Linked DNA regions of Homo sapiens. The protein of the gene in region 1 interacts with the protein of each later gene in a biochemical or structural test. Each region holds a gene or a part of one and is shown in the gene's direction. Other genes may lie near its edges. The genes, in order: TMEM178A and DLG1.

What was found.
Region 2: the proteins of TMEM178A (region 1) and DLG1 interact in a test that uses a peptide from one of them, tested with the Homo sapiens proteins (2 studies listed by IntAct, with this or other methods).

Annotation. Positions count from the first base shown.
Region 1 is NC_000002.12:39,699,825-39,716,113, forward strand, and holds part of TMEM178A (transmembrane protein 178A isoform 1 precursor), read left to right. Parts: intron 1-4,256; coding exon 4,257-4,370; intron 4,371-7,224; coding exon 7,225-7,362; intron 7,363-11,659; coding exon of another isoform or gene 11,660-11,718; exon of another isoform or gene 11,719-15,438; intron 15,439-16,289. UniProt on the Homo sapiens protein: Acts as a negative regulator of osteoclast differentiation in basal and inflammatory conditions by regulating TNFSF11-induced Ca (2+) fluxes, thereby controlling the induction of NFATC1.
Region 2 is NC_000003.12:197,294,504-197,310,821, reverse strand, and holds the start of DLG1 (disks large homolog 1), read left to right. Parts: upstream 1-12,209; 5' UTR 12,210-12,286; exon of another isoform or gene 12,287-12,575; intron 12,576-12,686; exon of another isoform or gene 12,687-13,278; intron 13,279-13,340; exon of another isoform or gene 13,341-13,469; intron 13,470-13,586; 5' UTR 13,587-13,617; coding exon 13,618-13,636; intron 13,637-14,344; coding exon 14,345-14,476; intron 14,477-16,318. UniProt on the Homo sapiens protein: Essential multidomain scaffolding protein required for normal development. Recruits channels, receptors and signaling molecules to discrete plasma membrane domains in polarized cells.

The DNA of each region.
Region 1 (16,289 bases):
ATAAATTTTGGTATGTTGTAATTTTGTTTTTATTAATTTCAAAATGTTTTCTAATTTACTCTAGTGATTTCTTTGCCTTATCGGTTATTTAGGAGTATATTACTTAATTTCCACAAATTTGTGAATTTCCTAAATTTTATTTTCTTATTTATTTCTAATTTCATTGCATTGTGGTGAGAGAACTTACTTTGTATGACTTTAATGTTTTTAAATTTATTGAGATTTATTTTATTGCTTACATATGGTCTATCCTAGAGAATATACTATGTGCACTTGAGAAGAATGTGTATTTTGCTGTTGTTGGATGGAGTGTTCATAGATGTCTCTTGTATCTTGTTGGTTTATAATGTTGTTCAAGTCTTCTGTTTTTTGTTGATCTTCTGTCCAGTTGTTTTACTATTATTGATCTTCTGCCTAGTTGTTTTACTATTATTGAAATAGAAGTATTGATGTCTCCAACTATTATTTTGAATTGTCTATTTCTCCCTTCAATTCTGTCAGTTTTTGGTATTGCATGTATTTTGGGGCTCTATTGGTCAGTATATGTTTATGACTGCTGTATCTTCTTGATGGATAGACCCATTTATCATTATAAAATATCTTTTTTTCTCTCTGGTAACAATTTTTGTCTTAAATTCTGTTTTGTTTGATATTAGTATAGCCATTTCATCTTTCAGTTATGGTTTTCATGGTATATCTTTTTCCATCCTTTAAAATTTCAACCTATTTGTGTCTGAATTTAAACTGTGTCTCATGTAGACATCATGTAGTTGGATTATGTTGTTTTATCTACAATGCCAATCTCTGCCTTTTTATTGGAGTATATATTTATATTTAATATAATTTTTGGTAGGGTAGGATTTATAGATGCCATTTTTCTATTTGCTTTCTATATGCCATATGCATTTTTGTTCCTCTATTTCTTCATTAATGTTTTCTTTTGTGTTAAATACATATTTTCTAATATGGCTTTTTAATTCTTTTTGTTGTTATTGTTTCATTTACTACATATTTTTTTTTTGTTATTTTCTTAGTGGTTGCCCTGTGGATTACAAGTAACATCTTAACAATCTAGTTTGGATTAATACCAATTGAATTCAATAGTATATAAAAACCTTGCTTCTATATTGTTTCATCCCCACTCTCCTCCTCCATACTATTATTGTCATACAAATTACATGTTTATACACTGTATGCTGATCAACAGAGATTTATAATTGTTGCTTTATGACTTTTAAATCAGATAGGAGAAAAAAAGAGTTGCAAACAAAAATACATTTATACTGTCTTTTACAGTGACCTATGTTGTAACCTTTACATGTGCTTTTTATTTTTTAAATATGGGTTCAGTTATTATCCTTCATTTCACCCTGAAGGACTCCCTTTAGTATTTATTTTTAGGCCAGGTCTGCTAGTGATAGATTCTCTCAGTTTTTGTTTAGCTGGGAATATTTTATTTTTTTCCTAATTTCTGAAGGATAACTTTGATGCATATAGGATTCTTGGTTGACAGTCTTCTTATTTCTGTGTTTTGAATGTGTCATCCTATTCCGTTCTGGCCTCCATGATTTCTGATGAGAAATCAGCTGGTAATCTTTCAAAGTTTTTTTTGTGTATATGATAATTTGCTTTTTTCTTGCTGCTTTCAGGATTCTCTGTCTTTGGCTTTCAACAGTTTGATTATGATATATCTGGGTGTGGGTCTCTGAGTTTATCTTATTTGTAGTTCCTTGAACTTCTTAGGAATGCAAGTTCATATTTTTAATCAAATTTGGGAAGTTTTGGCAGTTATTTCTTCAAATACTCTTTTTTGATCCTCCTTCTCTCCTCCTTTCTGCAGCTCTCATTATGCTTTTGATGGTGCCTCACAGGTCTCTGAGGCCCTGACCATTTTTTAAATCATCCTTTGTTCTTTATTTTTCTCAGACTGGATGATTTCAATGGACCTATCTTCAAGTTTGCTGCTTTTTTCTACCTCCTCAAAACTTCTTTTAAGCCTCTTTGGTGCATTTTTCTTTTCAGTTATTATACTTTTCAACTCCAGAATTTCTATTTTTTTCTTTACAAGAATATTTCTGTCATGTTGCTAATATTCTCTATTTAGTGAAATATCACTCTCATCCTTTCCTTTAGTTATTTGGATAGGTTTTCTTTACTTCTTTGAACATATTTAAAATAGCTGATTTAAAATCTTTGTAAGGTAAGTTCAATATTTGGGATCCCTCAGTGACAGCTTCTATTGACTGCTTTTTTTTTTCTTTTACTTTGAATGTCTCGTACTTTTTTGGTTGAAAACTGGGCATTTGAAATAACATACTATGGCAGCTCTGAAATTAGATTCTTGTCCCTTTCTAGGGTTGATTATTGTTTTTATTGTTGTTGCTGTTGTTCCTTTAGTGACTTTCCTGAACGAATCCTATGAAGTCTATATTCTTTGTCATAGGAGGCCCCTTAAGTCTCTGCTTGATTAGCTTAGTGGTAAACTAATTATTGTACAGAAATGTTCTTAGCCTGCTAAAACCAATAAACCTTCCAGTCTTTGCCAGTGGGGTTTGTTGTGTGCATGTTGGGTATGCCTTCAACTCTGCCTTAGCTTTCACTTCCTGCTTACAGAGCCTCAGGGTCAGTCTGATGAGTACCAAATGGAATGATAGTTTTGAAGAATACAAATGTAAGCTACTACTACATTTGTGGTCCTTTATCTGTCATTGTTCTCATACTATATTGTTTTCCCTTTGGAAGCACAGGCATTTCCTGACTTATAAACAGCTAACTTATATGTAAACAGCTACCTTTAATGCCTTAGACCTCACAACCACTGCCATGGGGCTCATGTTGAAAAAACAAATTAAAAAAAAAAAAAGAACTTCGAATTTTGAGAAAATGTGTGGTTTCATCAAAAAATAAAAAATAAAAAAAAAAGCTTCCAAAAATCAGAGATAGTTTGGGTAGTTTTTCTCAAAGGGAGATTCAGAGACTACCTGCATCAGAATTACTTGGGATGCTTGTTAAAATTCAGCTTCCTGGCTCCATCTCAAAACTTTTGATTCAGTATATCTGGGGTAGAGTTCAGGAGTTTACATTTTTAACGAGCCACCTAGGTGATTCTGATGTACACTAATATCTGAGAAACTCCTTAGGGAAGATGATCCTGTAGGTACATTCACAGGAGGGACTGGGGCTCATGATGCAAATTATGCTCAAATATTAATCTCTTCCCTTCACTATATAATCTTTTTAAAATTTCACCTTTATATGCACTCAGATTCCACCAATTAGAGATTTATTTGCATCTATGAAGATTTTTTTAAATGGCTGGCAGTGTTAAAGGACTAACATTCGCTCATGCCTTTAAAAAAATTAGTTTAATCAGATTGCATTTATCCAAACAACTGGCCAAGATTATTTAAAATGAGAGGAGAACATTTTATAAGTTTTTTTAAATTTTAAGACAGAGTAGATACTTTTCATGAAATTCAGAAGCCTCTAGGAGAAGAGAATAATGGACCCATGTTAATTTATGCAGTAAAACATGGGTGTGTGAGGTTGGTGTGAGGAGGTGGAGAGTGTACTAGATGAATCAATGTGTACACCTGCCCATATCAAAATATTGTGCCTAGGGCTGGCCATACAACCAGATAGGGGAGGAAAATTATTTTCTTTCTTGTTCCTACTTCTAGTATTACCCTTTTTTCTCGAGATCTAGAATTCAGGTCAGTATAACTGTATTAAGGAATGATATCAGCTGCACTAGAGTTAAATAGGTTTTCGAGGTTTGTCTGGAGATATAATCACCACCTAAACCATGTGGAAGGTTATCTTTATGGAAAAATGTCTTCTGGTTTCCAAATAACACACTTCCTAATGAACTTCATGAGGCTACCCTTGAGAGTTTGAGACTGGATCAGATCCAGATGTGTGATTTATCTGTGCTAATTTAAAATTCTAAGCTGATTTTCCCAACCATCTGTGTACTTTTAGGCCATTGCTCCTTAAGGAGTTTTGTGTTTAGGTAAAACAAGCTCCGTATGGGAAAACAATTAGGGGAGTATAGATCCTTATACAATTTAATACATTAAAAAATGAAACCTGATTTTAAACATTATTTTATGTTTTAGGTTTTTATTGCTCTGAATCAAGAGATTCTTATCCCATCTCCCATTCAACCCAGGTTAGGTTACGGTATTCTGCCTCAGGTCTCAGAATTCTGTTACAAATAAGCAGACTCGTAAATCGCGTTTCTTATTTCCTTCAAGGTATTGCGCAGCGATGCACGGCCATCAAGTACCACTTTTCTCAGCCCATCCGCTTGCGAAACATTCCTTTTAATTTAACCAAGACCATACAGCAAGATGAGTGGCACCTGCTTCGTAAGTATTTCCAGGAGAGGTTCAGAGAGGAAATGGTGTCATTCTGAACAAAATTCCCACCACCCCTCTCACATCTGGACAGAAGGATGTTGTTCTTATCCTCTGTGAGCCTCTGGGCCCAATCAGATGTGGTCAGAGACTCAGAGGATCATTTCCCTATGCTGTGGACACAGTTTGCTTAAAAATAAAATGTGTGGAAACCTGGTATAAGGTCTTGTGAGATAGTCTGCCCTGGTGGCATCTGTACACAGCTGCCTACTGAATCTTTTGTTTGCCGAGTTGTTGGGTGTAAGGACCTGCTGTACCCCTTGTCTTGTAAACCAAGGAGATTATACCTTAGGGGCTCTTATTTTTGTTTTGTATATACAATATTTATTTTAGCTACTGTGTTCATCTCCGACCTTTGTATTTCTGCTAAAATACCTTTATGAGTGTATGTCATAATTTTCTCAGAGGGTGTCTACATCTCAATGAAAGGAACTATTCTTTTTCACTGTCAGGAAAATGTGAAACTCTAGAAAGCATCATGCAGTGTGAAACTAAAGAGGGCTGATATTTACCTAAAAACTGTTGATTTAAGCTGCCTGATGATAGATAGCTCCCCGAAACGAAAAACTACTGTGAATTTTTTTGGTCTTTGCCCCCATCAGAGGTTGACATTGTCATTTTCCAATGAAATAAGTAACAAGGACTTCAGGATCTTGTTTGGTGGCCAAAGCCACTGTAGAAAACTAATCAGAGTCTCTCATTCTGTAAGTAAATCTCTCTGCGGATTAAAAGGCTCTGTTCTGAATCTCAAACACATAAATGGAAGCTCTTATGATATTGCCAGAGCAGTGGTCTAATATACATATTATGGCAGGCAACTTTAAGACTTAATCATCTTTCCAGAGAGCCATGTAGTTACTGGCTCAGGTCAGGGGAGAAAAGATCATCATAGGAGCCTGAAAAAGAACCTTAGCTCTTTAATAGTTTGTACCTTGTGATTGCCCAGCAAGGCAGTATTTGAAGATTCTTCTTTTAATCCTTTTTGGAGTTCTCATGGAAAGATGCTTTTAGCAGTCTCATGCATGTCTATTTCTAAGAAAGTCACACTTGGTGATCTGTAGCACATTTACTATATAAGCTTAACATGACTGGTACTAATGCAAATCCCATGTGGATTATATCTGAACCTTGTGCCTTTTCAGAGTCACAGAAAATAGACTATCACTCAAACCATAGGAAATTTGGGAGGCTGTAAGATAATGGTGACTGAACCATACTACATTTCCCCTGCTCAGATGTGGCTGTCTCAAAAACTACTTATACCCTTAACATTAAACTCAGCGTCTTTAAATTATCACTGCTCCTGGCCCCTTATTCATTGGTGTCCACATTTCTTCTTCTAGGCAGAAATACTCTCTTTTAATTTGGATGCTCTGAGTGGGAAATGAGAAATCCCTCTTTAAAAAAGGGATGGTCTCTCTGTGGCTAAGGTGCTAAGAGCAAGACTGGAAGCTACTGTAATCCATCCTCCATGAAGCCGCCCCTAAGCTGCCCAGGAGCCACACAAACACACAATAAAGTGATGGCTGCATGGGCACTTTCACTTTAGCAGAGCAGCCCACACTTCGAACAGTGTGATCTGCACCTTGTCTTGGCCCCATGTGTACACAGGTGTGGATGATCCACGTGCATTTGCCCAGACCTGTTACCTGGCCTTGGGGGCAGCAGATGTATGCTTGGGATGTGTTGTTTTAAGAAGGGTGATTGAAATTTAGCGAACAATTTTTAAAGTTAGTTTTGTTAAAAAAAATCCTTTGAGATGGAGCTGCAAGGTAAATAGAAAAGATTCAAAAGCATTTTTTAAAAAAAGAAGGAAGAAAATAGAAAAAGTAAAATAGCTGGAAGGTAGGCAAGGTGAGTGCTGGTTTAGCAGTTGGAGGCAACTTGTGTCCAGGTACACGTAGTCAGCCTACCTCTTGGTTTTGTCAGGCATGTGGGGAAAGAGCTGGATTTCTGGCTCAGTGATCACAGTTGTGTTTTTGCAATAGACCAAACTAGACAGTTGGGCCACTGTATAGTGGAGATTATGTAGTGGAGACTCATCCTATTGGACTAGTACTTCCTTCACCTGGGTAAATGGATGCCCAGGTTGTGGGATCTATGCTTTAGGGGAGAAGGCATTTCTGAGCAGATGTTTCAGAGGAAAGGGTGTTTATGAGCACATGTATCCTGTGTGCACTTTACACCACTGTTCCACTCACCACAATTGCCTTCGCTTTCTCAAATTGTTTTTGAAAATAGGCAGGAGTAGATGTAAATGAAGAAGTAAATAATTGGCATCTGTGGTGATCAGATAAAACCCTATTTCACAATAGCTTTTTTAGGCTCTTTCTCCAAAGCTAGATTAAGTACAGCCACTACCAGGGTAGTAACCTACATTTCTTTTTTTTCCCCTTTTAAAATTTCAATAGTTTTTGGGGTACAGGTGGTTTTTGGTTAACCTACATTTCTATTGTTCTGTTAAGGCTAACAGATATTTCTCAGACCCACCTCACTCTTTGTTTAAGTCATTTGACATCTGTTACTCAGGTCTATCCTGGGCTTGTCCTCTAGTCTATTCTCCACTTAGTGTGGACTTCTCCACGGACTCAGAGACGGTATAGTCTGACCCTCCATTGGTTACACCCCATCAGTCCTCTTATGGAATACCTGGGAAGAGTATTCCCTATGCCTCCTTGTCCTGTGGGCTCTAAGCCTGTCCATGTAACTTACTAATTTTCACAATGTATACAAAGCCCTAATTCTCTAATTCTTAATGACTTTCCTGAATTCTGATTGTGAATGTCTGTGTCTGTTTTGAGATTAGATTTAAGAAGAATCACTGCTGGCTTCCTCGGCATGGCCGTAGCCGTCCTTCTCTGCGGCTGCATTGTGGCCACAGTCAGTTTCTTCTGGGAGGAGAGCTTGACCCAGCACGTGGCTGGACTCCTGTTCCTCATGACAGGTAGGCTGCATGCCTCAGGCCGTCTGTCCCAGCCAAGGTGAAGGCTGCTCTGCATGCGGCTAGCTAGTGTCGCTTTGTTATCTCCCTGTTAATTTTGTTTTCACTGTTAGAAAAGCAACCAGAAGGTCATTTTGGCTTTGCTGGAAAATACAGAATTTAAGGAAAACAACAGTGTGAGAAATGCATCCTCTATATCCCCATTGTGGCCTGTTAGTAGGTTGGATGGAAGTGTCTTGGGTTTAATCTCTATATGAGCCCAGTCTGTTTTTTTGCTGTACTTTCTTTTTTCTTTTTTGTTTTTTTGAGATGGAGTCTCACTCTGTCACCCAGGCTGGAGTGTAGTGGTGCGATCTTGCCCCACTGCAACCTCTGTCTCCTGGGTTCAAGTGATTCTCCTGCCTCAGCCTCCTGAGTAGCTGGGACTACAGGCATGTGCCACCACACCTGGCTAATTTTTGTATTTTTAGTAGGGTTTCACCATGTTGGCCAGGCTGGTCTCGAACTCCTGACCTCAGGTGATCTGCCTGCCTCAGCCTCCCAAAGTGCTGGGATTACAGGCAAGAGCCACCACACCCCACCTTCTGTTCCTTCTTTCATACTGTGCCCCAAACCCTGGCCTGGACTCTTGGCAAACATGGACCATTGCTTATGAGGTGCCCTCAAAGACAGAGGGGGATAGATCAGCACAACCCATGCCCCGCTGGATGTCAATTCAAAGCATGCTTTAGTGATGGTGTCATTTTTACATACACAACACTCATTCATTTTAGTCCACAGATATCTTTTGAGGACTTACTATGTACGAGGCACTGCTGTGAGTGCTAAAGACACACAATGAATAAGGCAGGCAAAATTCTTGTTCATTTTTATTGTGGAGAGACATAAACAATGATTTGTGGTAGTGATAAAAGCTGTGAAGAAAAGAAACAGGGTGAAACAGGGACTCAGGGAAGATCTTGCTGAGGTGGCGATTTCGCAGCTAATTCGTGAGAAGCAGCCGGTGGTAGGAAGAGCGTAGCAGACTGGGGAAACCGCCAGTGCCAAACCTGAGAGAAGCGGCCAGTGGGGCTGGAGGGAGTGAGGGACAGGATAGTATCACATGAGGTGGGGGAAGTGGGCAGTGGCCAAAGCGTCAGGGTTTTGTTGGTCATGGTGGAGAGCTTGGATTTGAAGCTAAGGGTGACAAACGCCACTAGAAGGTTTGAAGCAAAGGAGTGACTTGATTTTTTTTTTTTTTTTTTTTTTTTTTTGAGACGGAGTTTCGCTCTGTCGCCCAGGCTGGAGTGCAGTGGCGCGATCTCGACTCACTGCAAGCTCCGCCTCCCGGGTTCACGCCATTCTCCTGCCTCAGCCTCCCGTGTAGCTGGGACTACAGGCGCGCGCCACCATGCCCGGCTAATTTTTGTATTTTTAGTAGAGACGGGGTTTCACCGTGTTAGCCAGGATGGTCTCGATCTCCTGACCTCGTGATCCGCCCGCCTCGGCCTCCCAAAGTGCTGGGATTACAGGCGTGAGCCACCGCGCCCGGCCGATTTTTAAAGAAGGGATTGGAAAGATGGGGGTGTGGAGACAGGGCTAGGATTTTTTTGACTAACAGCTAAAGGGTAGTTTTGTCTAAAAATGTGCCAGGTGCTGAGTTGATGGCTAACACTGACCGAAGGTAGCTTCAGGGAAGAAATCTTTCCTTTCTTCTCCTCCTTCACAGAAAACTCGTGTATTAATGATTAGTGAATGCCACATTAACTGGGCATTAACAGTTTCACACAGTATACTCAGCAACAGAACTAATATTCCCCGAGATAGATAGCCATTTTAAATAGGCTTATTTCCACTTGCTTGGAATTCTGTTATTCAAGTGACTATGCCTAGATTTTCTTGCACTTCTCACTGTAATGGGTCACTTAATTAAGCCTGCGTTAACAGGAGGCAGCCACACCCCACCGGGGCTGACACTGTTTGCTGACTGTCTGTCTCTGAGCGTTGACGGGTAGGGGGTACTTTGCCCTCTGGCATGTTCAACCACCCTGCAGCCTTAAGGAACCCACATCACAGGCAGGGATCCTTCCTTCTAACTCCCACTCACCCCTATCCCACTCCACGAAATGGTGCTGCAATTGGCAGTGATCTGGAATGTGGGGCATCATCACCAGCATCCTGGAACATTCAGAAGTCACATGGATGCTGCCTAGTTCTCAGCAGAAAACCAATTTAGGTTTTCTAGATTTTGGTGAATACACAGTGGCCACCAGGACTGTAGCACAGGGAGGCTAAAATGTTAGTTTCTGAGGTTTTAGAGGAGGATTTGGACCCTCAAGACCAGCCACTGGGTTCCTGCCCAAGGGATGCATTTAAAATCCAAATTATAGACTAAAGCAGACGCGGGCAGCAAAGAACCAGAGAGGACTGCACTGCACAGAGGATTCCTTTACACCTCTGCTGGGGCTTAATGGTTATTTAAAAATCTCCCCCGTTTTCTTCTCTCCCTTTATTTAAGCCCCCATTTCTCTGACTCTTGTCTCCATAAATATCAAAGAGGTACAGATGTGTTGCCTCCCAACACATGGGAAAGGCCCCATAACACTCCCCTTGTCAGGAAAATGGGGGATGCTCTGGAGTGGACAAAAGCCTCAGTAGGAGGAGTTTTTAAAGGATACTTTAAATATATGTACTGCCTGAATAGTTTAGTATGCTCTTAGCAAATGAAACAATTGTTAGAACTAAAATAAATTACAAGACCATGAAAGCCTACTGAGTGCTCCTTGGGAGACTGAGGGGCCAGTCTGGTTTTAAATGAAAGGAAGTTGAAGGTTCAATGGCAGGTGGGCACAGAGGAGAGGCAGTAGTTTCCTGGGCCAGCTCCACCTCTCCCTGTTCTCAGCCCTTATTTTGGATCCATGTGTGGATTGTACCTCTGGACCAGAGGAGCTCAGAGGTCCTCAGGATCGAGCACGGGAAGCTCCTGTGTAATTGTTAGGCAACATCAAAATATGCAAAGCAATAGCCACAACAGAAACCACCACCACCACCAACAAAAACCCAAACAATAAACTTGAAGTTTGATGACCAGTTCTGAAGGACTAACAGATACAACCTAACATTGTTAACATTGTTCTGTTGTTTTGTTTTGGTTGCCCAAACAACGTTATTGAAATTAAGGGGGAATCCACTTACAGACCTCATCACCTGAAAACAAAACAACCTTTTTTCAATATTTCCTTTATTTTGGACCAAATCTTGCCATGTATTTGCTTCACTGTAAAAAAACAAGAAAGGAAAAGGAAGGAGAAGAAAGGGGAGGGGATGGAAGAGGGGAGAGGAGGAGCATGGAGTGGATATGCTATGCTGGATTCACCTGTTCTGTTGCTGTGGGATTTAGGGGCGTTTGTTTTGCTTTTGTTACTACAAATAATGCCTTGAAATTTCCTTTGCAAACACTGAGACAACCATGTCAATCTATTGCTTGAGATAAATTAGCTGTAGAACGTTCACATGCAGTAGGAGATGAGAGCAAAAAAAGGGTTAAAAGAATCGATTTTAATTAAGCAGAATGTCTTTAGCCACTCAAGTCAGCATCCTTCCCACAGATTTTTGATGCTAAACTTAGCCCCTTCTAATGCTCTGCCATCTTCATTCTGTGCCTGAACTTATTAGCTAAACCTTCAAATGAAGAACATCAACCATGTGACAGGTTGGCTGGTTAAAATGGAAACTCTGAAACGATATTTCTCCTTCTGCCTTATTGATTGCACACAGACAGGTCTTGATTACCACATGTTACACAGCAGCCCTGCTGACTGTCGATGCACATCTGGAGCCAGGTCTCACCCCTCTTCCTCTTCCCTAGGGCCATGCAAGGGCCCTCCCAGAGAGCCAGGGGCAGCCTGCACATCTCCCACCGGCCTTGAATTTAGACTTTGGATGTCACACCCTCTGAGGTTACACACACACAGGCACAGAAGCATACACAGGTGACTGAGGGAATAAGACTCTTATCTTCCAGCTTTAAGCTTCTGCCCATTACTAGACTATACTGCTTTCAGTGTACTGTGAATGAATATTTCCACCTACATTATTAAGTGATGCATTCTATTAGATGGGTATAATATATACTTATTATAATTTAAGTTATAAATCTTTTAAAAGGTTATTCAGTGCAAACATTTTAAAACACTTTTTAAGGTCTCTGTTGTAGGATTTTTAGTATTTTTTAATTCACCAGGAGTCTTAAAAATTGGATAAAGCTTGGGCCTCCCTTGGTGGGGGTCTCACTGCTCACGAAATTCATTCACCTTCACAGGCTGTGCCTTGAGTGGCCAACTGGAAGATCACACACAGCATGAGACAGTCCCTTCCTGACAGCAGAGACAGAGAAGACAGAGTCCAGGCAGCCCTAGCAGAGCTCCAGGGACAGTTAACACCCACCCACACTGGTTATTCATTCTTTTGTTTTAATGAATCCAAATTTTTTTTAAAAAAAGACTCAACCATGGTAGGTGTATTGAATTATCTAGATTATCCATTGATTATGACATGAAACTACAGGTCCATGATACTTTTTCTATAACCTTGGGGGCCAGGTGTGTTTTGTAATTCAGGATCTAAAACTTTTTATTTTAGAAGAGTAACACGGTGCATATATCCTGTGTTATTTAACACCCTCTGCAAGGTCTGGGGTGGCATCTTGAAATCAAATACATTAATATTCCTGTAGCTAAACATACGAATATTCACACTAAATGGGATCAATAAGTACTAGAATAGCCTGTGTCAGACCAGGCCAGGATTTGCCACTACAGAGATTGCTTCAATCTTTCAGAAAATGATTGGATGCTTTTGGGATTTAGGAATTGCATTTTGTGTGTGTGTGTGTGTGTGTGTGTGTGTGTGTGTGTAAGAGTTTCTTTCTCTCTATTAGTTCTGCCAGTCAGTTAGGACAATATAGGAATGGCTTTTTGAGTAATCTGTGTGCAAACTAGCATGAGGCATTTGAAGGAAGACCAAAGAGATCAGAACGATGGGCAGGCCATCTTTTGAAGGAGCAGGGGAAAAAAATCAATGTTTATGCCTTTGGGTGTTGTAGTTACATTATTTATCAAGCAGGCTAAACAGGGTGAAGCAACTTCCACTCCTTTCAGTCTTTTAAGCACATTAAAAAACGGTGGTCAAAAGAGTGGGCCCCGTTACCCTAATTACATCTTACCAGCCGGCATCATGAAGATTTTAGGGTAGGAAATTAGGTTGATGATTGCAAGGATGATAGCATAAATTTACTTCTGTCCTGATGTGAAAATATCCCTTCTAGCCCTATAATTCTGTGATATCGTGGTATCTTCTAATTAGGAATATTGGCAGAAAACCTTTTAATATTTTATAAGAAAAGTAGTTGCATGCAGGGCTTGTCAGGAAACCAGTAATTTATTCACTTTTTTGAAGATGCTGCCAGCAGTAGTAAGGACCGAGCTCAGGACTCAGGAACCTCTCTCTCTCTCTCTCTCTCTGGGGGACACTAGCTGGCTGAAGAGTATCAGCTAGGCAGGGGAGAAGTGGAAAGGAAGGGAAAGCCTCAGAGAAGAATGGAGGAGAGGCCACCTTTCTCCCCATGGATCTTCAGGAAGGACCATTAGATTTTGAACTTTCTGAATGCAGAGGTGATACCTTATTAATCCTTCCATACTCCTTTCGCATACCTTGCATTAATTAGATTGCTGCCAATGAAAATGCAGCATTATCAGAAATAACTTGCTACATAGGTAATCCCTACTTGGGGTAATTTGTGATGAACCGACTCTTAAGTTGGTAGAACTCAATGTATTGCAGAATTCAGTTTCGTTCAGGTTTTCTTCACTCCATGTGCTCAGCTCTGTTGGACTCCATGCAGAACTTACGGGAAGTCTAAGAGATCCCTATGACCTTTTCCTGAGATGCACGGAGGAGAGTAGAGTGGAGAGAATGCTTGAAGTTCCTGACCACATCAATGTTGAACTGAGTCCAATTGTGACCAAGAAGAGCTCATGAAACTAAACTATCTCTAATATACCAGAACTAGGCTTGGGACGTGGTAGATACTTGATAAATAATTGCTGAATAACTTATTGAGTAACACTTAGAATAGCACAATCTTGCTAAAACCTATAAAAAAGCTAAAAATATATTTCATGCATGAGTACAAACACACACATACTCACATGTGTGTGGAATGTTATGGGCTGAGTTGTGTCCCCTCAAATACACTTGTTGATGTCTTTGTCCCCTACCTCAGAACGTGACAGTATTTGGAAATAGGGTCTTTAAGTTAAAATGAGGTGATATGGATGGGCCCTAACTAAATATGACTGGTGTCCTTATAAGGAGATTTGGTCATGGTGACAGAGGAGAGACTATGTGAAGACACAGGGAGAAGATGGCCATTGACAAGCCAAGGAGAGAGTCCTCAGTTTAAAAAGCCAACCCCGCTGACACCTTGATCTTAGACTGTAGCCTCTACAATTGTGAGAAAACAAATTTCTGTTGTTTAAGCCACCCAGTCCGTGGTACTTTGTTTGGCAGCTCTGGCAAACTCACACATATGAGTACTATAAGACATGTATGTGGAACCTGAAATAGAATTCCACACTCTCAACATTGACCTAAAACTATTAATCCAGCTATAGTAAGAATGCTTTCATCATTTCAAACAACTCTTTTTCTTGATGCCTTTGAATTTAGGATTTTTTGTTTTGTTTTTTAAAATATCTTGAATGGGTTAGGCTTCTTTTACAGAAGCTTGTTGGAAAAGTTGGAAACAATGCTTCTCTCCTCTTAGTACATTTCCTTGTAATCATCACACATTCCTGCCCATCTCACAAATCATTGTGGTGGCAGCTATGCATGTGCAAACATTCTTAGAAATGCGAGGGTCTGAAAATGAAGAGCTCCTAGATATGGTTTTCTTGTCATTCTTTCCTGCCCTGCTTTCCTCTTACTTACTAAGAACAACTTCGAGAGCACTTTGAAAGGAGAAGAGATGTTACAGAAGGGCAAGCTATAGGGGCATTTGTGGGAAGGGGGATGGAGAGAGGGGATGGATTTTTGGGCTGATAGGCCTCCTCTCCACCACGCTCAGCTGAATGAGTAAAGGCAACAAGAAATAAAACAAGTCTGCATCAAAGTTTGATGCGTGCCCTGTTCCAAAAAAAAAACTTAACTGGCATAGAGATAACACTTAAATTAATACAAATAAATAAAGTAAGACAAAGGGACAATCAGGTTTCTGAGGCAAGATGGATCCAAGAGTGAGATTAGAAGCCAAAAGCATGCCATGAAATCCCATACTTTTGCTCATGGTGGGCTACAGATTTAGCTTTAGGGAGCTTCAGTGCTCTGGCAACTTGGATAAAGAAAAATTCTGTTAATGACATCATTCACAGTGTCCATGAGGTAAGCACAAATCAATTCCCCAGGAAAAGCACAAACATCCATGACACTGAGAGCAGAGAGAAATCATTCTGGTTAAATCCCCAGATTAGATTGTTTCTTGTAATTCTTTTCTATTCAGTATGAACCGGTGGTTTAATGATAGAATTCATGTCATCAAAAGCAATTTTATGGGGTTGGCAGGGGAGAGGAGCTAATGAAAGAAATGTTAAGTGTAAAATCAGAGGGAGTATATACAGAAAGATAGATACATAGGACATTCCATTTTCATTTAATTGCATAAGCTGAGTACTAGATTCACTAGGAAGTTTTAATAAATATTCTTGTTTCATGTTTCATTTTGGAATAACAGAATCACAGAAATTTGACACTCTTAGGGACTTCAGTAATCAAGTTTCCCACTCTTTTTTTCCCTAGATGAAGAAACCAAGGCTCAGAGAGGTTAGGTAATTTCAAGTTTGCACAGTGTTTAGTAGAGCTGGAAACTAGAATACTTATTTCTCACATCCCAACCCAATGCACTTGGACATGAAAGGATGCTTAAAAGTCTAGGTTTGAACTCAAGCTTTCATAGGTCATTAAAACAATGTTACTTGTAAAAATGCTTGCTTTTAGGCATTCAGCTATGTGCAAACAGCTAAATGCAGAATAAAGTTGTTTTTCCTGTGAAGAGGTCATTGTTCTATTATTCTATTTTACTTGTTGATGCTCCAAAGATTATTTTTTCTAACTGCCTATTGTTCTATTACCAGCATTTATTAAAAGGGCTTTGTTATATATAAAAACTGCCTTTGTTTTGGTGCCAGTGAAAACATTTGTGTAGATCTAAGAACATTTGCTTTTCACAAGGTTTGAGAAAAGTGGAGTATTCTTTTTTGAATGGCCCATTACTTTATGAGAGAATTATTTCCATCTTGATTTTTCTCTTTGAGAACTCAAAGTGATATGTTTGCTGTAATAAATTGGAGCAAGAAGTCAGAAGAAAAGATTTTATCCTTTTTAGTAAAACAGAATCACTTTAGAGTTTAAATGCAGAATTAAGCAAAGAGTAGGAAATATCAAATTATCTCAGATCCAGTGTCCTTTTAATTTAGAACATTTATTGTCTAAGTGCACATTTGGAAGCGGATTCAGGCAACGTGCTCTTACATGATTTGAATGGAGGCAGAATTCTAACATTTTAAAGATGGCATTAAGGTGGTCTTTATTTCCTCCAAATTGCTGCCTGCCCTGAATTTGTTTTTCTGCTAGCATTTCTAATCTCCAAAGCTATAGGTTAAAAAAGGGTGGTGGGTAGAGGGCGGGGAGCTTTGAATGGGTTGGAGAGGTAATCTGCTACTTTTAGCTCTCTCTTTTCAGTTTCAAAATCTGTGTCTCTGTTTCCAGTGGAGATGCTACGTGTATCCCTAAGGATGCCAAAGGAATTTTCCAGTCAATAAATGTTGTCTCTGTTGTATACAGGGATAAACCAGACTATGAAGAAGAGATGTGTAGGATTCAGAACAGAACTGGAC
Region 2 (16,318 bases), on another chromosome or scaffold:
GTCCCTGGAAAGCTATCTTTTACATTAAAGAAGACTGGAGTCAAGGATTTTAAAGTGCCGGGCACGATGGCTCACACCTGTAATCCCAGCACTTTGGGAGGCTGAGGCGGGTGAATCTCCTGAGGTCAGGAGTCCGAGACCAGCCTGGCCAACATGGCAAAAAATTAGCCGGGTGTGGTGGCGGGTGCCTGTAATCCCAGCTACTGGAGAGGCTGAGGCGGGTAAATCTCCTGAGGTCAGGAGTCCGAGACCAGCCTGGCCAACATGGCAAAAAATTAGCCGGGTGTGGTGGCGGGTGCCTGTAATCCCAGCTACTGGAGAGGCTGAGGCAGGAGAATCGCTTGAACCCAGGAGGCGGAGGTTGCAGTGAGCCAAGATCCCTCCATAGCACTCCAGCCTGGGCGACAGAGTGAGACTCCAACTCAAAAAATAAAAAATTTAAAAAAAAATTTTTTAAAGCAATCTTCTCCTAAGGAATGGTGATTTCTGGAGTAAAAACTTTCTCTGAATAGGAGTTTCCCTTGCTCACTCCTGCACCAGCCTTCTCTCCATGACCAAATTCATAAGGCACTCAGCAAGACTCTGTGCTCAGAGCCCAATTGCAACACACAGTACAATTATGCTGACCATGCCAAATACTTTGGCTTTGGAGAATAGATCTATTAACCCCAGCAACGTGGTTGTGTTCCTCAAGCGATCCTAGCCTAAGAAAAGACATGTGAATAGCCTGACCTCAGAGTCACCCTGGCCTGAGCTTGCCCTCAACCTGATCTGAACTTCCTGGCACTTGGGACCAGAATAATAGCAGTCACACCTGAGTTTCCAGTATAAGGTCACAATGCAAAGAAGAGAATCAAAAACACTGGTCCGAGAAGATCTTCCAAATCCCTTCCTAAATGAAGTGGTTAGATCAGAGATTTATGTTTGAGTTTTTATTCTCTCCTGATTTGTTCACAATTAACTTGCAAAGCTGTGTTAATAGGCAGCTTCATGAACAGAGATCCCAGAGGTTAGAGACCAATAAGAATTGTACAGTATTGCATCATTTCCTTGGGAAATTCTTCAAATTAAGCCACTAGCTGCATTCTTTTCTGGCTCAATTTAGGGTCACCAAACCATAGAAAAGAATGATTCACCAAACAAACTTTTGCTTTTCCTTTTCTGGTGCTTCATTTAACCGCTTTATGCCTCAGAGTAAAGCTATTATAATGGCATTATCCTTCTAATGAGGAACAGTGCAATGCTTTCCTGATGTTAATACCCAGAATTATGCAGTGTTTAAAAGCCACCGTGACTTTAGGGAATACTCACTAAGTTTTCTATTGCAAATACCCTAGTCATATTGAAAATGAATGAGTGTAATTCTTTTGGTGTTTTTAAAAAACGTACAATTCTTTTAATAAATCATAGTTCCCAAAAGGAATAAGAATGGTTCATTAGCAGTACTAATGAAAATTCCATCTTCAGTAAAACTTAGCAGAATATCATTCCCTGTAACAAAATGTTTTCAGACACTTTGTTTGCCAACTTTATTAATGGAGAACTTTGTGGTCTAGATTAGAAAACTGAAGATAATTGAGAGAAAGAGAAAGAAAGAGAAACCATCCTAGACAAGCAGTTATATGTATCATTTAAAAAATAATGGCTCAAACAATAGTGTCACAAATCTTCAGAGGTAATGAGAAATTTTTAAAAAAATTAAAAAGTGGCATAAAAAACATTGTTCTTAGTAAAATTCTTTTCCAGGCATTATATTTATTGCTGAGGTGTTCTCTTCATCCACTCGTTCGTGTTTAGCCAAGCAACCTTGAGAAGTTCGAAGTTGTTTGCCTGCTACAGACCATAAACAAAGACGGAAGATTTGAATTTTCAAGTCCCAAGGCTTCAGCTTTGCAATTTCCTTCTCAGACAAATTTTCCTAGAGAAATAGAATTTGTTTTAGTTCCTGGCTCATAGTAGTTGCATCATACAGATTAGTTTACTGAATGACCTGATGAATAAGGCTTTTATTAAAGTAGCAGACTAAACAATTTTTCTGTCTGTTTTTAGGAACTTTCCCTGTCTGTGGAAGTAAGTGATGACCACCTGAATGAGAACAGAGGCTATTTATACAGAGCTTGCTATAGCGAGGGAGTGAGCACCGTCACTTGCATTTGGCAGAGGCTCAAAGGCAGGCAAGGGAGTAGGAAAGCTTTATAATTAAAAGAAGAGAAAAGGAGATCCTCAGGTATGGAAAAGCTGGAGGCAAGATAACTAGAAGCAAGGCATTTTGTATGATTGATTTAGGGAGAATACTTGCCTTTCTCTGATTGGCCTTGAGTTGAAAGATGGTAAAAATTAGTGAAGCTGGGCCGGGCGTGGTGGCTTACGCCTGTAATCCCAGCACTTTGGGAGGCCGAGGCAGGCGGATCACGAGGTCAGGAGATCGAGACCATCCTGGCTAACATGGTGAAACCCCGTCTCTACTAAAAAATACAAAAAAAATAGCCGGGCGTGGTGGCGGGTGCCTGTAGTCCCAGCTCCTCGGGAGGCTGAGGCAGGAGAATGGTGTGAACCCGGGAGGCGGAGCCTGCAGTGATCCGAGATCGCGCCACTGCACTCCAGCCTGGGCGACAGAGTGAGACTCCGTCTCAAAAAAAAAAAAAAAAAAATAGGGAAGCTGGCAGTCATTGACCAAGTTCTGATTATTTTAGGCCAATTACTGCAGTGGTTGTTGTCTGATTTCCTGGGTTGCTTGCTGCAGAGGTTGTGGATCACAGAGTTCTGTTGTCATATATGGTCTGGTGTGTATTCAGTCTTTCATCATATATAGCAATTTCTTGAATTACTTTCTCATCCCAATCCCCCTTGACATTTCAAAATGTAGTGGCACGCAAAGTGACTTGCCAACTTGTTTAAATCCATTCGTTTTTGTTTGTTTGTTTTGAGAAGGAGTCTCGCTATGTCGCCCAGGCTGGAGTACAGTGGCGCAATAGCTCACTGCAACCTCTGCCTGCCGGGTTCAAGCAATTCTCATGCCTCAGCCTCCTGAGTAGCTGGGATTGCAGGTACCTGCCACCATGCCCGGTTCATTTTTGTATTTTTAGTAGAGACAGGGTTTCACGATGTTGACCACGCTGGTCTTGAACACTTGACCTCAGGTGATCCACCTGCCTCAGCCTCCCAAAGTGCTGGGATTACAGGCGTGAGCCACTGTGCCTAGCCTAAATAGTGATTTTACATGGAGTTTTGTCATTAGGAGGAGGAAGAAACTTGACTTTTTCACTCTAAGGGGATCTTCTATTTGTTTCCAGGAATTTTAGGGACTCACATACATATTAAATTTGGAAAGGTTCTGAGAAGTAATTTTAAAATTGTCTATAGGCAGAACCACATTTAAATCTTCCTAGTGAGGCTGGGTGCAGTGGCTCATGCCTCCAGACCTGGCTAATTTTTGTATTTTTAGTAGAGATGGGGTTTTATCATGTTGACCAGGCTGGTCTTGAACTCCTGACCTCAAGTGATCCACCCACTTCAGTCTCCCAAAGTGCTGGGATTACAGGCGTGAGCCGCCATGTCCAGCCTCAGGTTGAAAGCCTTCTCATAATGTGTGGTGACCCTTGGTTGGCTCCTCCTGTTGAAAGCTGAGCTGATTGGAGGCTCTGTGTATATTTGAGATATTTGAGAGGCTCATTGATTGGTCTGCATTCTTTTTTTCTGACAGATTCTCACTCTGTTGCCCAGGCTGGAGTGGAGTGGCTCGATCTCAGCTCACTGCAACCTCCGCCTCCTGGGTTTAAGTGATTCTCCTGCCTCAGCTTCCTGAGTAGCTGGGACTACAGGCACCCACCACCACGCCCTGCTCATTTTTGTATTTTTAGTGGAGATAGGGTTGCACCATATAGGCCAGGCTGGTCTCGAACTCCTGATCTCAGGTGATCCGCCCACCTCAGCCTCCCAAAAGTGCTGGGATTACAGGCCGTGCCTGGCCTGGTCTGCATTCTTGAAGGGCAATAAAATGACCAGCTTGACATTTTTTTTAAGCAGCTTTATTGAGATATAACTCACACACCATACAATTCACCCATTTAAACTGCACAGTTCAATGGCTGTTAGTATATTCACAGAACTGTGAGTCCAAAACCACTGTTAATTTTAGAACATTTTTATTAAAATAAAAAAACCTCATTCCTTAGCCCTCACCTTCCAACCCCTTCCATCCCATGCTCCTCAACCCTAGGCAACAACTAATCTACTTTTTCTCTCTACAGATTTGCCTTTTCTGGATATGTCATCTAAATGGAATTTGCAGTATGTGGTCTTTTGTAACTTGCTTCTTTTACTCAGCATAATGTTTTCAAGGTTCACTCATGTCATAGCATGTATCAGTACTTCACTTCTTTATTTTGCTGAATAATATTATGTTACATGGGCGTACCAATTTTATTTTTCCATTTACCAATTCATGGGTATTTGCGTTGTTTCCACTTTCTAGCTATTACGAATAATGTTGTAATGAATATTTGTGTATAGACACGTGTTTTCAGTTGTCTTTGGTGTATACCTAGGAGTGGAATTGTCACATCCTATGGAAATTACATGTCCAAGTGTTCAAAAAACTCCCAGACTGTTTTCCAAAGTGGATGCACCATTTTACAGTCCCAGCAGCAGTGTATGGGGGTTCTGATTTCTCCACATCCTTTGCAGCACTTGTTATGATGGTAACAGCTGTGTCTTTTTGATCAGAGCCATCCTTGTGGGTGTGAAGTCTACCTCACTGTGGTTTTTATTTGCATTTTTCTGATGGCTTAGGCTTTCGTTGTAAGCCTTCCAACTATGAGTATCTACTGATCTTTCTGAGGCAATTCCATTTTTCTCTCTGAAGGGTACTCCAGCTATGGCTAGCAGGAAGAAGGAGGTGGGTGTGAGGGAGTTATCTCTGTTCAATACACAGATTTTCCCTTAGTTTCCTGTACTATAATGCACCACCATCTTCCTCTGAGTCTAGTAGTTCCAAATCTAAAACTTCTCTTATTCTCCAATAAATCAAATTCTTGCCTTTTGGAGGAGTGAGGGAAGATGGTCACCGGTCTGAATATGTGGGAGCCTGGGCATCTAAATTCCTTTTTTTTTTTTTTTTTTTTTTTTGAGATGGAGTCTTGCTCTGTCACCCAGGCTGGAGTGCAGTGGCACAATCTCAGCTGACTGCAACCTCCGCCTCCCGGGTTCATGCGATTCTCCTGCCTCAGCCTCCTGAGTAGCTGGGATTACAGACGGGCACCACCATGCCTGGCTAATTTTTGTAGTTTTAATAGAGATGGGTTTCACCATGTTGGTAAGGCTGGTCTCAAACTCCTGACCTCAAGCAATCCACCTGCCTTGGGCTCCCAAAGTGTTGGGATTACAGGTGTGAGCCACCGCGCCTAGCCACTCTTCTTTTTATTAAGGATGGAGGAACAAGTTTCTCTTTGTTCTAATATTTTTGGAGTCTTTTTCCAAGAGAAAAAAAGAATAGAGATACAGCTTTATTCTGCTCTTTTGAACCCAAGCTTCTCCAAATTATTATGGTAGCATTTCTTATTAAATATTTACTTCTCTCTTATTCTTAAATTGCTTTGTTCATCTTCATTAGTAATTGGTAAAGGCCCATCCCTTTTAAATTTTTGACTCATTGTCTCCTACTCCCTTCGAGCTTGGCTTTGTTTATTCATGTGGTAATTTGCAAGTTGAAATGATATCCAACTTGGGAAAATTTTGCAGGATTTTTAAAAAGCATATTTGGAAAAGTTTCTTCAACTGCCGCCCAATTTATTTATAAAAGGCAGAAGATGCTTTAATCACAAATATTTAATCTCAGTTGATAAAATTGTCTTGGGAAGAAATTAATTTAATCTAAAGAAAATTTAAATAGAAAGCAAGATTTAAATGATTCATTATCGTTACCGTTCTTGTGAGTGTAAAATAGAAGAAAATAATAAAGGAATTTAGGGTTATACAACATGAGGAATAGGAAAATGACAGCCCTAGTGAGTGTCACTTCCCAAAAATGAAAGACTGGCACACAGGTCTTTGTTTTGGAAGGTTGTGGCAGTTTTCCATCCTAAATGAGATTGGTCACTGGACACAGTCCACATATAATTATGAAGAATCTTCTGGCTTCTCCACTTACCAGAATTCTATTCAGGTCATATCTCAGAAATGGAATACAAATGACTTCCTAAAATTCTAATAGCATTTCTTCAAATTCCAATTAAGTTTCCAAGTTTATCTTCTCTACCTACATAAGGATAATCTGACTGAAGGGCCCTGGCCAAAGCCTTCTGTGAACAGACAATGGTCATTCTCTTGGCAGGGGGTGGGGTGAAGAGGTTGTTTCATGTAAGGAGATTTTAGTATAATCCTGAGGATTTCCATATGGGATCCTACGGTTCTGTCAATACCACAAGTTCTTCAAAAGCAGAAAAGCAAATTTGGTTAAACTTAGAAACGTATCTCTAGAAAAGATTACTAATTTCTCCTTACCCCCAGCCCCTTCTCTCTAAAAGAAAGATGGATGGTTCTGGAAATGTCAGTAGCTTTCTGCCATCAGGGAAAAGTCCTCTGATAATTGTGTGCCGACGTTGTCTGGGAGCTCTTCTGGAGCTTACTTTACGTGCTTCTCAAACATGGGGATGGGAGTTGATGGGATCTGAGGGCACTTCCAGTTTGGATGTCCCGTCATCCAGAAAACCTCTCTCATACTTAAGGAAATGAAATGAAGGAGAGAAGGAAGCTACAGGGTATTTTAAATATATACCTTTGCATTAAAAAGAAACCCAAAAAACTCCGAAACAAAAAACCAACCCGTTTAGTTATAACATACCACCAGGGTGCGGATATGCATTTCTTCAAGGCCCTATTTCCATCAAAACTGTCTCCATTGTTAAAGGCATTCAAATATATGACAAGTACACTGTACAACAGACTAGCCCATGACTTGTGCCTTATTTTATCTGAATCTCACTCAGCCTCTCTCTTTTCTCTTTCGCTTAGTCTTTCTCTATCTCTGTCTCTCTCTCACACACATATACACCACTCTGTGCCCAGTGTTTTTTGTTTTGTTTTGTTTAATTTAGAAAAGGAGCCAAGTAGAGAAAAAGCAGCATAGATTAATCGAAGAAACAATGAACTAATGTTCAGCCCAGCTCCAGCCAGCTGTGGGGTCCTAAACCAAGTTATCTCAGTTTCCTCTTCCTCTGTGCTCTCCTTTGCAAAGTGGGAGACCATAACCAACGAGTTTATCTTATCGGTTGCTGTGGACCTGCAGTGAGTTAAATCTGCCTTTGAACACTGTATGAGAGGCTATACCACTCTCCGGATAGACCAGTTTACACGGGAGGCAGTTATTAGTCCTATGCTGATTTAGTACTCCATTATACCACACTCCAGGAATCTTAGGGTGGCTCTTCCATTAAAAAGCATTAATTCAGTGCCTAACTACCTATCATGGAGATGGTCAACTGTCCACATTTTAAAGGGAATTGGTTTCAACCTGTAGCTTTTATTCTGTTAAGAATTATCTATGAGAAAGAGATCAGTCTTGGTACCACCAAAACTGGGTAGAACGAATTCTTGATGTAGACTAAAGGGTGCTAATACCATTTCAGTATTCAGCAGGGACTGAGGTTTCAACAGCTTAGAACTGTGGTCTCAGAGGTCACGTGGTTCAACCTTATGTCCTGGGTATCTACCACCCTCTGACACAGAATCCTTGCTGGCTTCATTCAGCACCTTCCTGATTAAAAAAAAAAAAAAATTTCCACTACCTTGAGGCAGCTCTTTGGAATTTTGGACAGTTTCTGACAACTCATGTTAAGGAAAAACTTCCTGTGTTTGTCCATTGGTTGAATTTTCATCCATTGACTGTACTTGCCCACTGGGTACACAGAATAAGCCTGTTTGATGACTGCAGCTCCCTGGAGACTTCTGTTTTTCCAATGAAATGGCCCTAGATTGTACAGTTGTTTCCTGATTGCTGTGGTTACTCTCTTCTTTCCACATGCTGGTTTGTTCAGATTCCTTTAAAAGCGTGCTGCTAAGCAATGCCCCCTAGGCTCTCATGGAGGTCTGACCAATATGTCCACTTTCAACATACTTGACACTGTTCCTCTTCCTGCAGCCTAAGCTGGCATAAGCTTTTTTGACAGCATTAAATCCTTTCCTTTTAGTGATTGCCTTGGCACAGGCAGCATGCTGCTACCCTGCTGGAGTGAAAGCAAAAGATGCAGCGGAGTCTGGCAGGACCTGGACACCTTCATAGATTTATAAGCTGGGGCCTAGATGGAGGAGAAGACAAAGACAGAGATGTGAAGCTGCAAAGGTGGCTTGGGCAGGATGGTTGGGAAGGGAAGGGTTGGAACTTAGAGACAGTATCTTTGACATTGACTCTCTGACATTTCAATAAAAGAATGGGAAATCTGAGCCTTTCCCCATGGTCTTTGACTCCGAAGCCTTTTAAGCTCTTCAAAAGGCAAGTTAACTTGGAGCTGGAAAGTGAACAGCTTTACCTGCTAGTATTTTGTTGAAGTAACTTCTTCTATTCGTCTATCTAACTATCGATAGACAGACAGATAGGACAGATATAGATAGATAGATAGATAGATAGATAGATAGATAGATAGATAGATGATAGATAGATAGATAGATATAGTGTGTGTGTATATATATATATATTTAATGAGGAAGTTGGAAAATTAGATCCAATATTGTGTCCTATTCAATGGCAGCTGCTCACTGCACAAAGTAAGGAAAACTTTGAGGAAATAAAAGTTGCTTAGAAAAATCCAGATGTCAGGGCTGGGTGCAGTGGCTCACACCTGTAATCCCAGCACTTTGGGAGGCTGAGGCGGGTGGATCACGAGGTCAGGAGATCGAGACCATCCTGGCCAACATGGTGAAACCCCGTCACTACTAAAATACAAAAAATTAGCTGGGCGTGGTGGCACATGCCTGTAGTCCCAACAACCCAGGAGGCTGAGGCAGGAGAATAGCTTGAACCCGGGAGGCAGAGGTTGCAGTGAGCCGAGATCGTACCACTGCACTCCAGCCTGGCAACAGAGCAAGACTCGGTCTAAAAAAAAAAAAAAAGAAAAGAAAAATCCAGATGTCATTGCTTTGTATGTTGTGATGATGTGGTAGCCAGCTCCAAGAAGATGGCCTCCAGTGAGTCTTACTTTCTGGTATTCATATCCTTGAGGCTGATCTAAGTAACTGATCGGATATTATGGAGTATGCTATGGTCTGAATGTTTGTGTCCTTCTTAAATTAATACGTTGAAATCTTCACCTTCAAAGTGATCATATTAAGAGATGAGGCTTTTGGGAGGTGATTAGGTCTTGAAAGTGGAGCTCTTCTAAATGGGATTAGAGCCTTTATAAAAGATGCCAGATAGAGCTTGTTAGTCCCTTGCACCATGGGAAGATGTAGCAAGAAGGCTCCATTCATGAGGAATGGGGCTATTACCAGACACTGAATCTCTTGGTGTTTTTTTTTTTTTTTTTTTTTTTTTTTTTTTTTTTTTTTTTAAGACAGAGTCTTGCTCTGTCGCCCAGGCTGGAGTGCAGTGGCGCGATCTCGGCTCACTGCAACCTCCGCCTCCCGGATTCAAGCAATTCTCTGTCTCAGCCTCCTGAATAGTTGATTACAGGTGCCTGCTACCATGCCTGGCTAATTTTTATATTTTTAGTAGAGACGGGGTTTCACAATCTTGGCCAGGCTGGTCTTGAACTCCTGACCTCGTGATCCACCTGCCTTGGCCTCCCAAAGTGCTGGATATTACAGGCATGAGCCACCGCGCCTGGCCATTTTTTTTTTTTTAATTTTTATTCTCATGACTGTTAGATCACATCTGATGGTGTTTTGATCTTGGACTACTTAGTCTCTAGAGCTGTAATACATTCCTGTTGTTTATAAATCACCCAGTCTAAGGTATTTTGTTATAGCAGCCCAAACAGACTATGACAGAGTGTCACTTTTGAGACTAAGTGATGAAAGGCATTGTGGCTTCTTCTGTCTCGCCATCTTGAATCACTTGCTCTGTTGGACGTCAGCCGCTACGTCATGAAGACACTCAAGCAGCCCTATAGAAAGGTCTTCATGGTGAGAAATTGAAGCCTCCGCCCAATAGCCAGCATCAACTTACTAGCTATGTGAATGATCCATGCTGAAAGAGCCTCCCGTAGTCCCCCTGAAGCCTTCAGATGACTGCAGCCCTGGCAGGCTTCTTGACTGCAACATCATAATGCCCTGAGCCAAAACCACCCAACTATGCCGCTCCTGAATTCCTGACACACAGAAACTGAGATAATATTTATCGCTGTTTAACTTACTAAGCTAATAAGTTTTAAACCCTTAAGCTTTGAGGAACTTTTTTTTTATCCAGCAATAAGTAACTAATAAAGATGGGTAGAAAGGAGGAATGAAGAGTAAAGAGCCTTTATTCATTGTTCATATATGTTCATTTGCTAGGCACTTGCTGCCGGCACCTTAGGCTAAGGGTAGAACAAGTGCTGGGTTCACTGCTGCTTTTGTACACCGCTGACAACCAAATAGGGCTGTCACACAGAATGACAAGAAAAAAGGACACGTCCTCTTTCCTCCCCTTCCTCCTTTTTGCTTTTAGGGGAAGGCTAGGATGACATTGAGAACTCACACAAATTTTGTTTTTGACTCCTCAGTGTCCCCTGGGAAAAGGTGCATTGGCCTTTGTGTACTTGCTACAAGGCTGTGTATCCTTGAGAGCAGGACTCGGATCTTATTTATTTCTATCCCCGTTTCCTAGCAAGTGAACATATATGAACAATAAATGTTATCAAGGGAGAGGGCAAATTTCCCTCCCTGTTTCTTCTGAATTCTGAAGAGATTCCATTGTTAGAATGGTTTCTTACTGCAACCATCCCATTCACAGTCCATCAGCGAAGTCTTGAGAGTATGATGCCTGTCATGAGCCACTTTCACTACTAAATAAATTCCGTCCCTCTGTTAAGTTCCCGGCTGTTAGGACACCTCTGCCTTCAGCACCGTTTGACCCTTCTATCCCATTTTCTCTATGCAATGTTGCTTTAACTGTTGTTCAAGATCCCAGGATGCTTGATCCGGGAAAGCACAGAGGTCTGCTGCCAACATACCAACATACCTCTCTGTCAAGTTGTCCAAAATCACAAGAGAAAGAGCCCTGGACTAGAGCTAGGAGACCTGAGTTCTCGGCTGCTCTGTTACTGATTAGCGTCTATGTCCTTGGACAAGTTGCTTCCCTTTTTCCGGACCTCGGTTCCTTGTCCTAGATAGGTTCTAAAGTCGGTGGGTCCTTACAGTAAGTTAGGATTCTAAGGTGCAATCCAAAAGTAAAACCAGTGGTCAGTATACCTCTGAGTAGCTGTTAAGGTTACAATACGAGGTTCCTCGGCCTTCCCTTTGGTAGCCAATGGATACGGCCTCAGTCAGAGGCCGTCAGGTTTACTGGGAAGAGCCTTCCGGTTTTGAAAGACAGGATCTCCGGGTTTCCAGTTCTGTCACTCACTCGGGGTAACTTTGGGCAAATTCTCTCTGGACCTCCTAATAGGGAGGTCCTCGTCACCCCGAGGAAGTTCGAAGACGTGGGCAGTGACTTGGAAAGCTTCCCGAGATTCCCCTTCTATAACCTGGGTGGCTCAGACCGGGAGCGGGGTCCCAGCCGGCCGGTAATTCCGCCCGGAGGTGCGCACGAAACAAACCTGCAGCGCTGGCCGAGGGCGGCTCAGCTTCGGAGGGCGCGACTCCGGGTGAGTTCTTAAAGGGACCGTCAGAGTTTGGGTAACACCTGCGATGCTGACCGGGCGGGGACGCAGGCTTGAGGGAAATGAATGAATGAATGAATGAGCGAATGAATGAACAAACCTTCTCTGCCCACCCTTAAGTATACCATACTCGGAATTAATCAGTTAGGCTTAAAAATCTTGTACTATAACCCTCAAACTCTTGCCAAGTTAACCAGTGTCTCTATTTCATATGTCCTTCTGTAATGAAACCCCTCCCCCCAAGCCTATTACTAAGGGACGAAGAGTAACTTAACAATCAGCCTGGAGTGGAAGGCAATGCAGAGTTGGCACCCCTCCCCGAACTCCTCCCTCTCCCTCTCCCAGGCCCCGCCCTCCCCGCCCCCTGGGAGGTGCAGTTGGCTCCTCCTTAAGGCGGCTTTTCCCCGGTGGGGATCTACCCCCGGGGTCGCCAGGCGCTGTCTCTGCCGCGGAGTTGGAAACGGCACTGCTGAGTGAGGTTGAGGGGTGTCTCGGTATGTGCGCCTTGGATCTGGTGTAGGCGAGGTCACGCCTCTCTTCAGACAGCCCGAGCCTTCCCGGCCTGGCGCGTTTAGTTCGGAACTGCGGGACGCGCCGGTGGGCTAGGGCAAGGTAAAGGCGGGCTCCTCCAGGGCCACCCCGGGCCACCTGTGGAGTCCGAGTGTTAACTCCTTTGTTCTCAGAGCCACTTCAGCGGCCGCCCTTTTAAGCGAAGAGGTTCCCTTAGGATGCTCCCCGGGTACCCCTTCCGTTCCCCTGCCCTCCCCCGACCCGCCTCCCCCTTCCAACCCGAAGGTAGCAGCGCGGGGAGCCCGGGGCTCGGCGCGAGCCGCCTCCTCACTTCCCATTGGCTGAGAGCGCCGGGAAAGCGGTCACGTGGGAGCGCGGCAGGCCAGCTCGGGGGCCGCCATCTTGGCGGAAAGTTTCGGGGGAGAGCGGTTGGGGGCGCGGAAGGAGGCGAGGTTCCGGGGGTGGGGCGTGCGGCAGCAACTGGGCGAGCGGGCCGGGGGGCCGCGGCGAGCGAGGAGGCGGCGCGGCCGAGAAGGAGGACGAGGCCGCGGGGGTGCGGCGGCCCAGGGGAGCTCCTCCCCCGTCCCTTCGCCCCCTCCGCTCGGCTCCGCGGGCCCCGGGCGGGGCGGGGGTACGTGGAGCGGGGCCGGGCTGGGGAGCTGCTCCGAGTCTGGCCGGGGCGCACCCCAGTTCCGAGCGCACGCCGCTCACCGGAACTTTGTGGCGGCGCCGCAGGTGTGGGGGCCCGCGGAGGTGTGCATGCGGGGCGCGAGGGCGTCGCGGAGAGCGGCCGCTGCCCTGTCCGGCCCCCGCTGGAGCAGCCCGGAGGCAGCGAGCAAGGAGAAAGGCAAGCGAGAGGAGGGGGCCCGAGCAGGGCGGGCGGCCAGTCCCGCTGGTCCCCTCTCAGCGCTCTGCGGCCGCTGCTGGCTCAGGGGCCAAGGGTCGGAGCGCTTCACCCGCCCGTACCCAGTAGCAGGTGGGGAGTGTGGATACTTGTGCGGGGGAAGAGGCGGCCTCAGGTCTAGGCTCTTTGGGGAGGGGACGCTTTCGAGGAGAGTTTGGAAGCCGACTTCTGTCTGTTCTTAATTTGGAGGGGTACCCACTCCAAGGAAAAGCTTTCCACGTTGACAGACAACTGCTGCGTTTTGAGACTCTTTCTTTGACTTGGTAAAACTTTGGAACGTGGGGTTTTCAAATAGGCTGCGAGGGTTTTCTATTTCGATAGGGGAAAATGCTAGTTTAACATGATTCTATCCTTTTTCCTTTCCGTTGTGTGTTTTAAAGGTGTGTGCCCTCTTCCTGATTCTGGAGAAAAATGCCGGTCCGGAAGCAAGGTGAGAGTTTATTCCGTAACTCTGTTGTCGATGTCACTTGCTTTTCCGTGTGTCAGTTTTTTGATTGCCGTTTTAGAATCGTTTGTGTAACTTTGATGAGACAGCACGGTCCTAGCTTTATTGCTTAGGGAATCTAAGCCTCATATCATTTCAGAAGATGGAAACACGAAAATGTTTGTTAAACTTTCTTAACATTTCTCTAGTGATTAAGAGAGGCAGTTAGCCCCCCCCCAACAGATGTCCTTAATAACCCTGAATTGGTGTTTTAGTATTTCACTCTATCATTCTTACTAAGCACTATTCTGTAAGCAACTGTGGGATACTAAGAATTTGTATTTTGAAATGTTAAAAATTTGGATTATGATGACAAATTGTAGATAATCTGCTTTTGCATTATCAGGTAATCTGAAACTGTTGCTAATACTTTGATCTTTTACTTTGGCAAACTACCAGTACACATTTATTCCAAACTGCTCACTCTCCTCCGTTTTCTAATGTGATATATGTTTAAATTTTTCTTGTATTTCTTTAATTTTTTTTTTTATTTTTTGGTCATTCTAAGGAATATGTGTACATGAACATAGTGACATCAATTGACCTGAAGGATTTGCGGAACTATTTAGATGTCATGCAGAATTATTTGCACTAGTATGTGATACTTTTTTTGTAAATAGAGAGTTTTAATCAGGCTCTGCTTTTTCTTCTCAGATACCCAGAGAGCATTGCACCTTTTGGAGGAATATCGTTCAAAACTAAGCCAAACTGAAGACAGACAGCTCAGAAGTTCCATAGAACGGGTTATTAACATATTTCAGAGCAACCTCTTTCAGGCTTTAATAGGTGGGAATTAAAACTTCGTAACTATTATGCCAGCTAGGCTTTATGCTCCTCTCAATTCATTTATTTTAAACTTAAGAAAATGATGTACTTAATTCTCTGAGGCATTCGGTAACTTGAACATCTTCAGTGAGTTGTGTGTTTTTCATAGGCCAGTGTCCTTTCTTAAAATAACTAGTAACCAAAAAACTTTCAGGATTATTTCAGTGGCTTTTGAGAACATTGTTTCACATCTTAATAGCATTAACTATTAAAAGATGTTGCACAGATGTTTAAGGACCTAAAAGGTATGACTGAGTTACTGTGAGCTTGTTTCTGTATTTGACTGGCATGTCTCTGAAGTCATTGAAAGCGTGTGAAGGGTTCTGCTGTGTTGAAGAACATTCATTCCCTTAATGTAGATTTCTGTTTGAGCTTGGCATTCATGGAGTCAGAATTTTAGACCTGGAAAATAATCTTAGAGATGATCTTGTCTAGTAACCGTATTTTACAGGCAAGAAAATGGAAAGTTTTATTCTTAATTGTAACTTAATTTGAAGTGGTGCATTGTTTGAAAGAACTGGAAAAATAAGAGTCCTGAGTTCTTTTGCCACTAATTGAATGATATATCCCAAGTCATTTAATCTTTTCTATGCCACCATATTAGCTGTAGAATGTAGCTGTTGAAATGACAGAATGGGTTTAAAGCCTTTTTTAAGTAGATAAATCATTTTTAAAAGCATCATCTCATATTTTGTGTATAATCTCCTATGTATAAAACAAGGTGACTTGTCTGGCTCTTTTGTCCAGGTACCTCAAAAAGTTTGCAAACCACCGAACTAGAAAGTTTGTCTCTTCCAATTCTAAGAATGAAGTTTTTTTTTTTTGTTTTAGTTATCAACTATATAACATTTTAACATAAGAAGACATATACTTAATTATATTACATTTATTTCTTCAGTAACTTCCAGTCAGATATGGCCTTACATCTATCTGTTGATAGAATAATTGTTGGTGTGATTTGAAGACTACTTTCAAGTCAGTGTGTCCTGTCAGGTACATTATTGATAAATGGATGCTCTCTACGGTTTTAGAATGAAAGATTTTTGTAAAGACCACTTGATGCACCTGAACAATTTTGAAAAATGTAACATTTTAATAGACTTTTAAAAACATAAGGATACATAGCACAGTGTAATGAACTGCCTTTTAACTGTTACCCAGCTCCAGAAATTCACATTTTGCCATTTTTGTTTACATTGATGGACATTTTTTACACATTTGAATTTCTGAGGTTTAAGGTCCGAATGGATGATCAAATTGGATTCCTCTGGAAAAACAGCAAAAAGCATTTTTTAGTTATTTGTTTTCTAAATCAACATTGAGCCTAGTAATTTGGTGCAGTTACTGTTGCAAAAAAAGTATGTTTTTTCGCAACAGTATAGAGATATATATATACATATATGTATAGATAGGCAGATAGATAGACTGCAGACTTTTCTTTGTGTGATGGCTGTAACTTAAGAAAATTAAATCGTTAGTGAAATAACAGAATCTACATTTATATTTCTGTCTAGATTGGGGATGGGTTTGCTGTGTTCAGAGACATTTTTGACCTATTCTGCCTTGCCTGTTTTGAATGTGTCTATTCTTACGTACAATTGAACTTTGATAGAGTTAGCTTTCTTCTCTTTTTTTTTTTTTTTTTTTTTGAGGCAGAGTCTCACTCTGTCACCCAGGCTGGAGTGCAGTGGCGAGATCTCCGCTCACTGCAAGCTCCGCCTGCCAGGTTCACGCCATTCTCCTGCCTCAGCCTCCTGAGTAGCTGGGACCAAAGGTGCCCACCACCACGTCCGGCTAATTTTT